Regions from separate parts of the Homo sapiens genome. Here region 2 is linked to region 1. Evidence: fine-mapped expression QTL. A gene starts in region 1. The other region holds a variant in brackets. All regions are shown on one strand. Distances are between the middles of the regions.

Evidence for each region. PIP is the estimated chance that this variant, and not a neighbour inherited with it, causes the effect.
Region 2: its variant is the best candidate, but not a certain one, in a credible set for the expression of DHX32 in whole blood (INTERVAL, PIP 0.63).

Annotation. Positions count from the first base shown.
Region 1 is chr10:125,879,069-125,884,446 of GRCh38, reverse strand. DHX32 (DEAH-box helicase 32 (putative)) reads left to right here and starts at 3,155. Exons shown (of 11, transcript NM_018180.3): 1 at 3,155-3,904. The coding sequence starts at 3,623. RefSeq lists an enhancer at 2,843-3,565.
Region 2 is chr10:125,694,635-125,700,012 of GRCh38, reverse strand. LOC283038 (a long non-coding RNA gene) reads right to left here. Exons shown (of 5, transcript NR_033848.1): 3 at 826-889. Among named protein-coding and RNA genes, the nearest start is that of TEX36, 14 kb to the right of the region's middle. The variant CTT/T (reference allele first, on the strand shown) is at 2,467.

The sequences.
Region 1 (5,378 bases):
TCAGATTTAAATTTCTTATAGTGGAATGTAGTTTATACTTACAACAGAACAGTTATGAAACTTTATTTTGAATGACATCTAACCTACCATATTATTTGTTTCTCTTTCTTTAGACTGGTACTGTTAAATTTGCCAAAGGCCAAGACATAGATCTTTGGTACATATTTAATTACCTCTAGGAAAAAACATTTACATGGCTTACACCAGTTGCAAGATGAATAAGGAGAGGTATATGAATGTTATTGGAGTCAATGGGCCCAACTCCTCTAGTTAGGTCTCAGCCACTCCACCCTCCAAATTTGGAATCCAAACCATATAGCAGCAAAAGGTCCTTCTGAGTAGTCGAAATAGATGTTCCAGAGTCTATAAATGTCATAGTTTTGCGCCTCAGACTCATTGGATTCAATGGTAGCATCCTTTGTGGACTCAAGCTTTACAAATGTGTCTGTCAAACAAGCTTGTCTGGCTTCTAATGCACCGGTTAGGAGAGCAGGTTAGAAAGGCAGAGAAGAGCCTCACAAGGTAAGAGGCCACACCACACAGTGGCATGGGTTCTGAGTCCCCAGGGAAGAGCAGGGCTCCAGGAGAGCAGTCTGGTCTTTGGCTTCTGTAGATTTCGGAGACATCTGAGGACATCATTCTGTTTTGGCAACTGATGTAATGGTGACCTTGAGTCACAATGAAAAAGTTAAATTGTGAGTATAGTTTATTTAAGAAGGCAGAAGTCTGGTTATCTGTTTCTGCAAGTCAAACCACCCTGCAACTTAGTAGCTTACAAAAACAGTGACCATTTGTTGTCTCATGATACTTTGGGTTGTATGGGCTCCTGTGGATGCTGCTTCTGCTCAGTTGGCTGGGGTTGCAGTCATCTGGAGGCTCGACTGGGCTGGGGCATCTTAGGCAGCTTGTTCACATGGTTGAAGGTTTATGCTGCTGTGGACTGGAAGTTCAGCTTTGGTCTCTTCCCGGTGGCTTGGGCGTGGGTACCTCATAGAATGACAGCTGGTTCTAAAGAGGAGTGTTTCAAGCATGGGAATATCTTGGAAGTGATTCAGTATCACTTAACTGCATTATTTTAGTCATAGTGACACTGGTCACAGGGCCAGCTCAGATTCAAGGGGAGAGGAAATAGACTCTACCTCTCCATTTGGAACAGTGGCAAATAATCTGTGGCCATCTTTAATTCCACTATAACAGAGAAGTGGTTAAGGCTAATGTGTGTGGATACATTGCACAATGTGTGATGAAGGGGCCAGGTAAGTCTCAGGTCTTTAGAAAGAAGACTATTCAGAAAACTTGATTATTTCCTCAGGGTTCAAAGTGGTCAGTGCTTTATAAGTAAGAATTTACTGTAATTATAAGATTATTACACTCTTAGGGAGTATTATAAATAAGAGAAACATTTCTTTTTGGTAAAAATAATAGCTGTTCTTTTTTTAAGGTAAAACAGTTAAGAAATACTACCTAAGGCAATCATTGGTTATAATATTTAATAGCAATTTAATTTACATGTAGGCTGAGAACCCTTGGAAGGGATTCTAATCAGAACAAAAGAAAAATAGAATATAAAATTAAATTTTAACTTCTCTGAAGAGTGGAATTTTCTGATTCTTGGATACCTTCCCAGAATTAGCTTGTGCGATGATCTCAAGCTACCATGCTTCCTGGAGCTATTCTGTGGGTCTACTCTCACCTTATAGAGGCAGTGAAGAGTTCTGAAGTGAATCCATATTACAACATTTCTATTATGCCTTTGTAATTCCATTTTAATTTTGAAACACTGGCTTTTAGATGAATTTTTAAGAACTTTACTTGGGAAGAGCTATGAAGTTCTTCTGCCTCTCTGGTTACTTACCTCTAAACTAGCTTGTTCATCTGTGAATTTTAAAACTTTCTATCCTGCTCTTGCTGCCATCTTCAAAATATCCTTTATGTGTGTATCTAGTGCCTAGTTTACTCATCTAATAAGCCCTTAGAAGACACTCAGCAAATGTTTTTTGAGTGATTGACTGTTGCCCTGGAGCCTGTCTTGACCAATAGAGAGAGAGCTTTTCTTATCACTTACTAATTAGGAACTAGCTGTTGAGCACACTGGCTCCAACCATCTAAAGCAATAATTAAGGTAAACCAGGTGATCCGAAAAGTGCAGTAACTTACAAAATATCATGAACTGTATTTTATTATTCTTTTTAACTTGAGTTTTCTTTTTCATTTTTATCTGGTTAATGTGAAAAGGAGCTTATTTCCAGCAACACTAATGGAATTTTTCTTTTTAATCACTAGTAATTGGAAGGGGAAAGACCCTTCACCTGACATGTGGGGACTGAGTTATTGGTATAAATCTTGCTCTTTCTTGGGTGATTTCTCTTCTTCATTTAAATTAAAAGTTGTCCTTAATGGCCTCTTGGAGCTGACATGTTGGGCTCAAGACCCAGGAATCTCAAGAAATATGCTAGAGATTTCTGGTTTAATTAAACAAAAGACCTTATTAATAAAAGCCAGCCAGCTGGGCATGGTGGCTCACATTTGAAATCCCAGCACTTTGGGAGGCCAAGGAGGACAGACCACTTGAGCCCAGGAGTTCGAAACTAGCCTGGGCAACAAGGCAAAACTCCGTCTCTACAAAAAAATACAGAAATTAGCTGGACATAGTGGTGTACACCTGTAGTCCCAGCTACTCAGGAGGCTGAGGCAGGGGGAAAACAGCCTGGGAGGTTGAGGCTGCAGTGAGCCATGATCACGCCACTGCATCCAGCCTGGGTGACAGAGCGAGACCCTGTCTTTTTTATATATATATAAAATAAAAGCCAACCATAACTACATATGGAAGGAAATAATAAATTCATTCCCCTCACTTGGCTTTCTAAACTGACATAAGCAAAAGGAAAATGAAAAGTTTTAAAAATGTTTTTCATTAAAGTAAAGGATTTCTTAATAATAGATTTTCCTGTAGCCTGTGTTAGAGGAACACTCACCAGGTCATCACAGTTCTTTCCTTTTATAGGGTCCAGCTCCTCTTTTGACATGGGATTAGGTGACCACGTGATTGATTAGCCTCACAATCACAATCCTGTCCCTCCTGTTGCTTTCCATTCACAGTTGATCAAGACGCAGAGCCTGAGATAGAGGTCAGGCAGAGAGCACGAGGCCCAGTGCAGAATCATTTTCTGAACCAGCCAGGAAATACCGGAACCCACCAAACTTTAAACACCAGCCTAAATTATTCCTGTTCTTTTAAGCAGGCAGCAGAAATGACAGAAACCCGTTAACAGAAAAAAAAAAAATAATGCTTTTCATTTGAACTCCTGTGCATTTTCTTTTTAACTTATATGTGTTCCTAATTTTCCTTACTCTTTTTGTTTGTTTGTTTCTTAGTGTGGTTTATTGACAATCATTTACAATGCCGAAGAGTGCTGTAGTGAGCCAGCACAGTGGGTAACACAGCAACGGAGAACAGATGCAGGTTTGAGGAATTTAACTTGCTAAAACCTTGAACTGAAGTCTTAGAGATTGGAACATACGGGTTTGTATAAATAGGCTTTTAAGCCCTGTTTGCAATGGGTTACTGATAGGAGAAACTTGCTTGTGGAATGTCAGCTGCGTGAGCTCACTGTCAGACAAGATGGAAGAAGAAGGGCTGGAGTGTCCAAACTCTTCCTCTGAAAAACGCTATTTTCCTGAATCCCTGGATTCCAGCGATGGGGATGAGGAAGAGGTTTTGGCCTGTGAGGATTTGGAACTTAACCCCTTTGATGGATTGCCATATTCATCACGTTATTATAAACTTCTGAAAGAAAGAGAAGATCTTCCTATATGGAAAGAAAAATACTCCTTTATGGAGAACCTGCTTCAAAATCAAATCGTGATTGTTTCAGGAGATGCTAAATGTGGTAAGAGCGCTCAGGTGAGTAACCACTACAAAAAATAATTTGCTGTATGTGTTGATTTTTTAATTGTTATTTAATGACATGTCACAGCCTAGTGTTCTAATAATAGTGTCTAAAACAAAAAACAAAACATTATTCAGATAAAATAATTAAATCACGTACCTAATTTTATTAATTTTACTAATACTAGCTGAAAAGTTAATAATATCTATGTAGAAATTAATTGTGTTTAGGGTACCACTGAATTGTCTATAGAGCAGTATTAAAATTACTCAAATGATCCTAGTATTAAATTTACTCAAATGATCCATTGTGTATATGATATTTTAAAAGATGTGATGCGTGTTATTTCCTCAGCATGGGTATGGGGATTAACTGCTCTGTTTCAGTGCCCAGTGGTCTGAGAATCCAGATATGTGGATGTGCTTGCTGGTGAAGCTGGCTGAGCTACTGAAATCAAAAGCACAAGGAAATTCTGATTTTCCTGACTATAAGAAATAACTGAGCAACTAAATATGATCCAGGCCTGGGGCCACACACTTTGGGGTCTAAGATGGGGGAAAGAATTAGGATCATTAAGAGATAAACCTAGGGATATTAAAATATTAAAGAGTTGGAGCAGGCACAGTGGCTCACATCTGGAATCCCAGCACTTTGGGAGACCAAGGTGGACAGATCATTTGAGCCCAGGAGTTCAAGACCAGCCTGGGCAACATGGCAAAATGCCGTCTCTACAAAGAAGTAGCCGGGCATGGTGCTGCATGCCTGTCGTCCCAGCTACTTGGGAGGCTGAGGTGAGAGAATCACCTGAACCTGGGAAGTTGAGGCTGCAGTGAGCTGTGATGATGCCCCTGCATTCCAGCCTGGGCGATGTGAGTGAGAGACCTTGTCTCAGAAAAAAAACAAAAAAAACAAGGAGTTTGTTTGAGCAAAGAATGACTCATGAATTACGCAGCACTCAGAACCATTGGAGGTTAGTGAGCCCCATTCTAGCAGCAAGGGCAGTGAGCTTTTATAGGCTGAACATGAAAGTAAGACAAAAGACATTTAAATTGGTTAGAGTGGAAAGTTCCGAGTTAGGGAATAGTTGGCAGTTTCTGATTGATAAAGTCTAGTATGGTTTTACTGTTTACATTGGACTTTAGTTTGCTTATGTGGGACCTTCTAGAGCTCTGTCATTGCCTCAGCCTAATGGCCTCTCAATTAAAGTTTGTTTGTTTGTTTAACGGGATAGTGGGCCAGGTGCAGTGGTTCACACCTATAATCCCATCACTTTGGGAGGCTGAGGCAGGAGGATTGCTTGAGTCCAGCAGTTTGAGACCAGGCTGGGCAACATGGCAAGATCCCAACTTTATAAAAAATTAAAAAATTAGCTGGGCATGGTGGTGCGTGCCTGTGGTCCCAGCTACCCAAGAGGCTGAGGCAGAAGGATCACTTGAGCCCATGAGGTCAAGGCTGCAGTGAGCCATGTTCATGCCACTGTACTTCAGC
Region 2 (5,378 bases), 180 kb after region 1:
TAGCACTGAAAGGATTGCAGTGAGAGGTAGCATTCTCTTGCAGTATTCCTCCAGCCCCCGAGTATCACTTCCTGGTGCTAAGCACTCACAACCCCTCTCCACCCCTGCTCCTGACAGTCACCACCATAACTTTAAATAGTATTCTTACACAGCTATTTTTTAACCACTTTAACTATTTTAAGTGTCCAATTCACTAACATTAAGTACATCTACAATGTCATGCAATCATCACCACTATCCATCTCCAGAATGCTTTCATCTTCATAAACAGAAACTCAGTCCCCATTAACCAATAACTCACCATTCCCCTTTGTCCCCAGGGCCTGGTAACCACTACTCTACTTTTTGTCGCTATAAATTTGCCTATTTTAGGTATCTCATGTAAGTGGAATCGTATGATATTTGTCCTTTTGAGACTGGGTTATTTCACTTAGCATAATGTCCTCGAGTTTCATCCACGTTGTACAGAATTTCATTCCTTTTTAAGATTGAATAATATTCTATTGTTTTTATATGTAACATTTTGTTTCTCTTCATCTGTCGATGGACATTTAGTTTTCTTCTGCCTGTGGCTACTGTGAATGATGCTGCTATGAACATAGGTGTACAAACATCTATTCAAGTCCTTGTTTTCAGTTCTGGGCAGCTATTTTTTGATGTGTCTGTTCTTACATTATCTTTTTACTTCTAGGCACGGTAAATTAGATAGACAAGGACTTAAGCATAATCAACTCCCTGCCTTTCTACATACACTCCCAGTCCCCACTCCCACATAGCTTTGGTTAAAAAAACAGTGTTTTCTCTATCGAATGTAAGTTCTCTTACCTTCCCTGGGATGGAAGGGACGAGGAAGGAGATGGTGTTCCTGGAATCCAGGGAGAACTGGAGCCTGGGAAGAAGCAGAGGGAAGCGGAGATGACGAGCAAGACTGCACCGGATGCCAGAGCCTGAAGGAAGCAGGGAAGAAAGATGCTGGCCTTCCTCTCCTTTCTCTGCTCCATCTCTTATAGCTCAAACCAGCTTGAAAGCCAGAGGGCAAAGCAGCCCAGGCCATGCATCCGCAGGGCCCAGGAAGATGAGAATGGACCAAGGAAGGAGGCCAAATGGAGCCCACCTGCACCCTTTTCTTCCTGAACTGTCCTCTCCATCGCCAACTCCCTGCCAGTACCCATGGCCCCTGCTGCCAGCAGGAGGACACCTTCCCTGAGAGCAGCCTCACTGTGCACATGGACCTGGCAGGGAGGCTCACACACACCCACACTCAGAACGAGCACAGAAGCTTCTCCCAAGGCCAGATAGAAATGGCTTTTGGATTACCCGCCATTTGGGCAGATTATCTGCACCACTGCTTCCGTCCATTACTGAGGAGAGCCTGGAGGTATCTGGACTGTCCTTGGTGTTCTGGGATGACCTTGTGGAGAGCTGATTACAGTCTGTGTGCGGAAAAAGAAGACGTCTGCCTGCCATTCTTTTCCTCACACTGGTTCAGCGACGTTTGATCTCTGGCCTGTGGCTGGAACCCATATTAAAGAGCCTGTCATTGCTTGTGATTTTTCTTGGAAGACCAGAATTCAGATTGGAGCAAGGCTTTCCATCAGAGCTGTAGAGAATCCATATTTGCCTTTGAGCCTTCCCGGCTTCAATTTAGTACTTGAGACCCCTTCTCCATAGCACTCCTCTTCACCCTCATCCCAGCTACGTGCCCCCTGGCTGTGCTCCCCCACCCCCAAGCCATTAGAAGGGCAGCTACCAACACAGCTGTAGGTGTCTGAGCAGAAAAGAAAATGAGAGCGAGAGGCAGCCTCCAAGGAGGTCAGGACATGCAAGAGTCGGTGGATACGCCAGTAATGGGAATTCGGGGTCTTCCTGGTGGGCTCCTTGGATTTGCACAGAGAACATGTGCCTCTGCCATAGCCTCCTCTCATGTCTCAAAGCCCTGACTCCAGGACTCACTTCCAGAGCCTCCAAGCTGTACCGCTCCCCTAGCTCTAGTCCTACCCATTTCTGATGTCCTGGGCCCTTTTCTCCTTTCTTCAACCACCACTGCATTCCCACATAGGCACTATCGTTTATAGATGAGAAGCTGATGCATGAAAAGGTTAAATAACTTGCCCAGTATGGCACGTCTAATAAGCGGCAGTACTAGGGTGCAAAACCAGGCTGGCTACCTCCAAAGCTTGTGCTCTTACCTGAGGGTAACTCTGCCTCCGGGGCCATTCCTCGATGGGTTCCCAGGGCTTTGGCTACTTGCTTCCTTGCTTGCTTTCCTTCTTTTTCTTTCCTTTCTTTCTTTCTTTCTTTCTTTCTTTCTTTCTTTCTTTCTTTCTTTCTTTCTTTCTTTCTCTTTCTTTTTCTTTCTTTCTTTCTTTCTTTCTTTCTTTCTTTCTTTCTTTTTCTTTTCTTTTCTTTCCTTCCTTCCTTCCTTCTTCTTTCTTGCTTTCTTCTTTCTTTCACTTTTCTTTCTCT[CTT/T]TCTCTTTCTCTTTCTCTCTTTTCTCTTTTTTTTCCTTCCTCCCTTCCTTCCTTCCCTCCCTCCCTCTCTCCCTCCTTCCTTCCTTCCTTCCCTCCTTCTTTTTCTTTCCTTCTTTCTTTCCCTTCCTTCCCTTCTTTTCCTTCCTTCCCCTTCCTCCCTTCCTCCCTCCCTCCCTTCCTCCTTTCTTTTTTGAGTCTCCTTCTGTTGCCCAGGCTGGAGTGCAGTGGCGTGATCTTGGCTCACTGCAACTTCCACTTCCCAGGTTCAAATGATTCTTGTGCCTCAGCCTCCCGAGTAGCTGGGATTACAGACGTGCACCACTACACCTGGATAATTTTTGTATTTTTAGTAGAGACGGGGTTTCGCCATGTTGGCCAGGCTGGTCTTGAGCTCCTGGCCTCATGTGATCCGCCCACTTCGGCCTCCCAAAATGCTGAGATTACAGGTGTGAGCCACTGCACCTGGCCTGTTGTTTGCTTTCTAAGTGTTGGGAAATATTCCTGCTGTCTAAAGAAATAGTGAGGCATTAGCATTCAGGTGAGTTTTGTTTTCAAGTATGACTTATTATATAATAATAACAAATTATTCTGAATGTGCTTTTTAAACATTGTTTTACTGCACTGGAGATTGGGTTAAAACAGAGGTTAGCAATTTTTTCAGACCGAAGAGTCCAAGTGCACTGAAATCCAGAAAACATGGTCAACAAAGTTGCCAGATGAGAATGCTGATTTTTAACAGAAAAATAAACAATTGCATATGAATGATACTGATATGGGGATGATTAAGGGAATATACTGAATATGGAACCTATCAATTTTATTCTATGAAATTGAATTGGTGGGGCCTTTGCCTTTTGCTTTTTCAAAGTTTTCATAACTTCCTTACCATGCCTGTCAGACCCTAAAGGGAGTGACTGGGCCCTGTGGGTAACAGAGGAGCTGGTCTTGTCAACAAAAAGGAAACTACACTCAGGACAAGAAGGGGTCGCTTGGTCCCTGAGGTGTGCATCTGGTCTGTCTGTGCCAGGTGGAGGGAAAGCTGAAATTATAGGATGAGCGGTGGGGCTGTCGTGAAGGCCCCAGGATTTTCCAAAAGAAGTCCTTTCCCAGGAGGAACAATGGTGCTTTGCAGGTGACATCAAACCCAAAGTGGGTGGGCTGGGGTTGGAGGGTCCACAGGGACCAGGGAATTGGAATTCCCCCTCTCCTTTCCCCACCCACATTGGGGCTCAGCTTCCCACCTGCTCTCCTGGAGACAGTCAATACCAGGAGACCCTGTCTTGCAGAGGCTAAGCATGGTAGAGGACTGAGACATGCTCAGCATTGGTGGACAGCAGGGGATGGGTCAGAAACATGGGTCAGGGAGAGACATGTGGTCCTGGGCTTTGGAGGCTTTAGCCTGGACTCTGGTAGGAGTCTCTGATCCTGGGAGAGCAGAGCCTGTTTTTTTCTTTCCCTCTACCCTCCAGTGGCCCCATCTCTCTCTTTCCCACTGGAAAGAAACTTGTCTAGTATGGCACATCTCCATAGCGTCCTCTCACACTCAGCCTGGGAGGCCAAGTCTTCTTTCTTTCCTAGCTTCTCCCTCAATCTTCATTCCCTCTTAACAGCAAGAAGGAAACTTTATTGGTTGATGTGCAGAAAGGTTCAGAGGTACTGCCGGGTTCAGGTGCAGGTTCAGCTGGAGTTGCCAGAACCCAAGACCCCTCAGCTCCTCCCACAGCCTTCTCCAAGAGTTGGCCTCATTCTCGAGGCATGGGCGTGGGAAGGTGGCAGCAGAAATGCCAGCCCATGTGCTTTTAGATTCAAATCTGTCAGGAAAGATTGAGATTCTCTGCCCAAATAAGAGTCTAGAACGGAGTTTAATTCGCTCTGATTTGGGTCATGTACCCACGGCAGAAGCAAACATTACTGCCAGGGGAATGGGCTGCTCTGATTGGCTGGTATTGGAGCAAGGGCAGAATCAACTCCACTTAAGCCATATGGAATGACAATCAGGAGAGATGGAGAGACAGCTATTGTTGGAAAAAGAGGGATGCTGGATGCTGGAGAGGCAAGCCCCAAATGGCCTCCATGCACCCAGTTCCTCCTGCCTCCGAGTCCCCCATGACTGCCCTGTAAATTCAGATCTGGCCCCTGTGACCCAACCCTGGTCTGGATCACTTGGCCAGTGCCCTTGGCACCTGCCTTAACCCCTTAGGTAAGAATCTGTCAGGCTGTCTATTTACTGTAAAAATTAGCACTGGATACTAAAGAAATCATGCCAAAAGCTTTCAATAATGGAGAAGATTTATATGTAACACACACACACACAATTTATTTCTTTTGAGTCTGATTCCTGAGGGTGGAAGCTTTGAAAATTTCACGACTGTGTTTAGAGGAACCCATAAAGACACTTTAGCTGGTCATGGCCTTCCTGCTTAAAGATCTTATCAGGAATTTTACTGGAACTTGGAGGTTTATTATTACTCATTGTTTGACTGTAAGGCTTCCCTCTTAAGAGTCTGGGGTGAGGCCAAGCACCATGTCTCAGCATTCTTTAAGCTTTCTATGATTTCACATTCCATAGTGCAAGGCTTATTAAAGTGGATTCCATAGGAGCTGACAGGAAAGCTTCTCTGCCTGCCACAGGGTGGAATGACAGTGCTTCTGTGGAAATGTGGATGCGTTCCTCGGTCAGGATTTGAACCCTTGAATAGGGATCACCTATTATGCACTGTGGTATTTTAAGCACCTGACACAATTTGGAGGATTGCCGGTGGAACACGTTTTTGGAACACATGCAAATTTATGATTTGACCGTCAGCCAGTCTGGTCGTCTCTATTCTTTGCAGACCACCTCTAGTTCTCTGGGTTTTGTAGCTTAATTTATACAGCCTTCCAATTGTCTGGGTCTTGAATTGCCGCAAG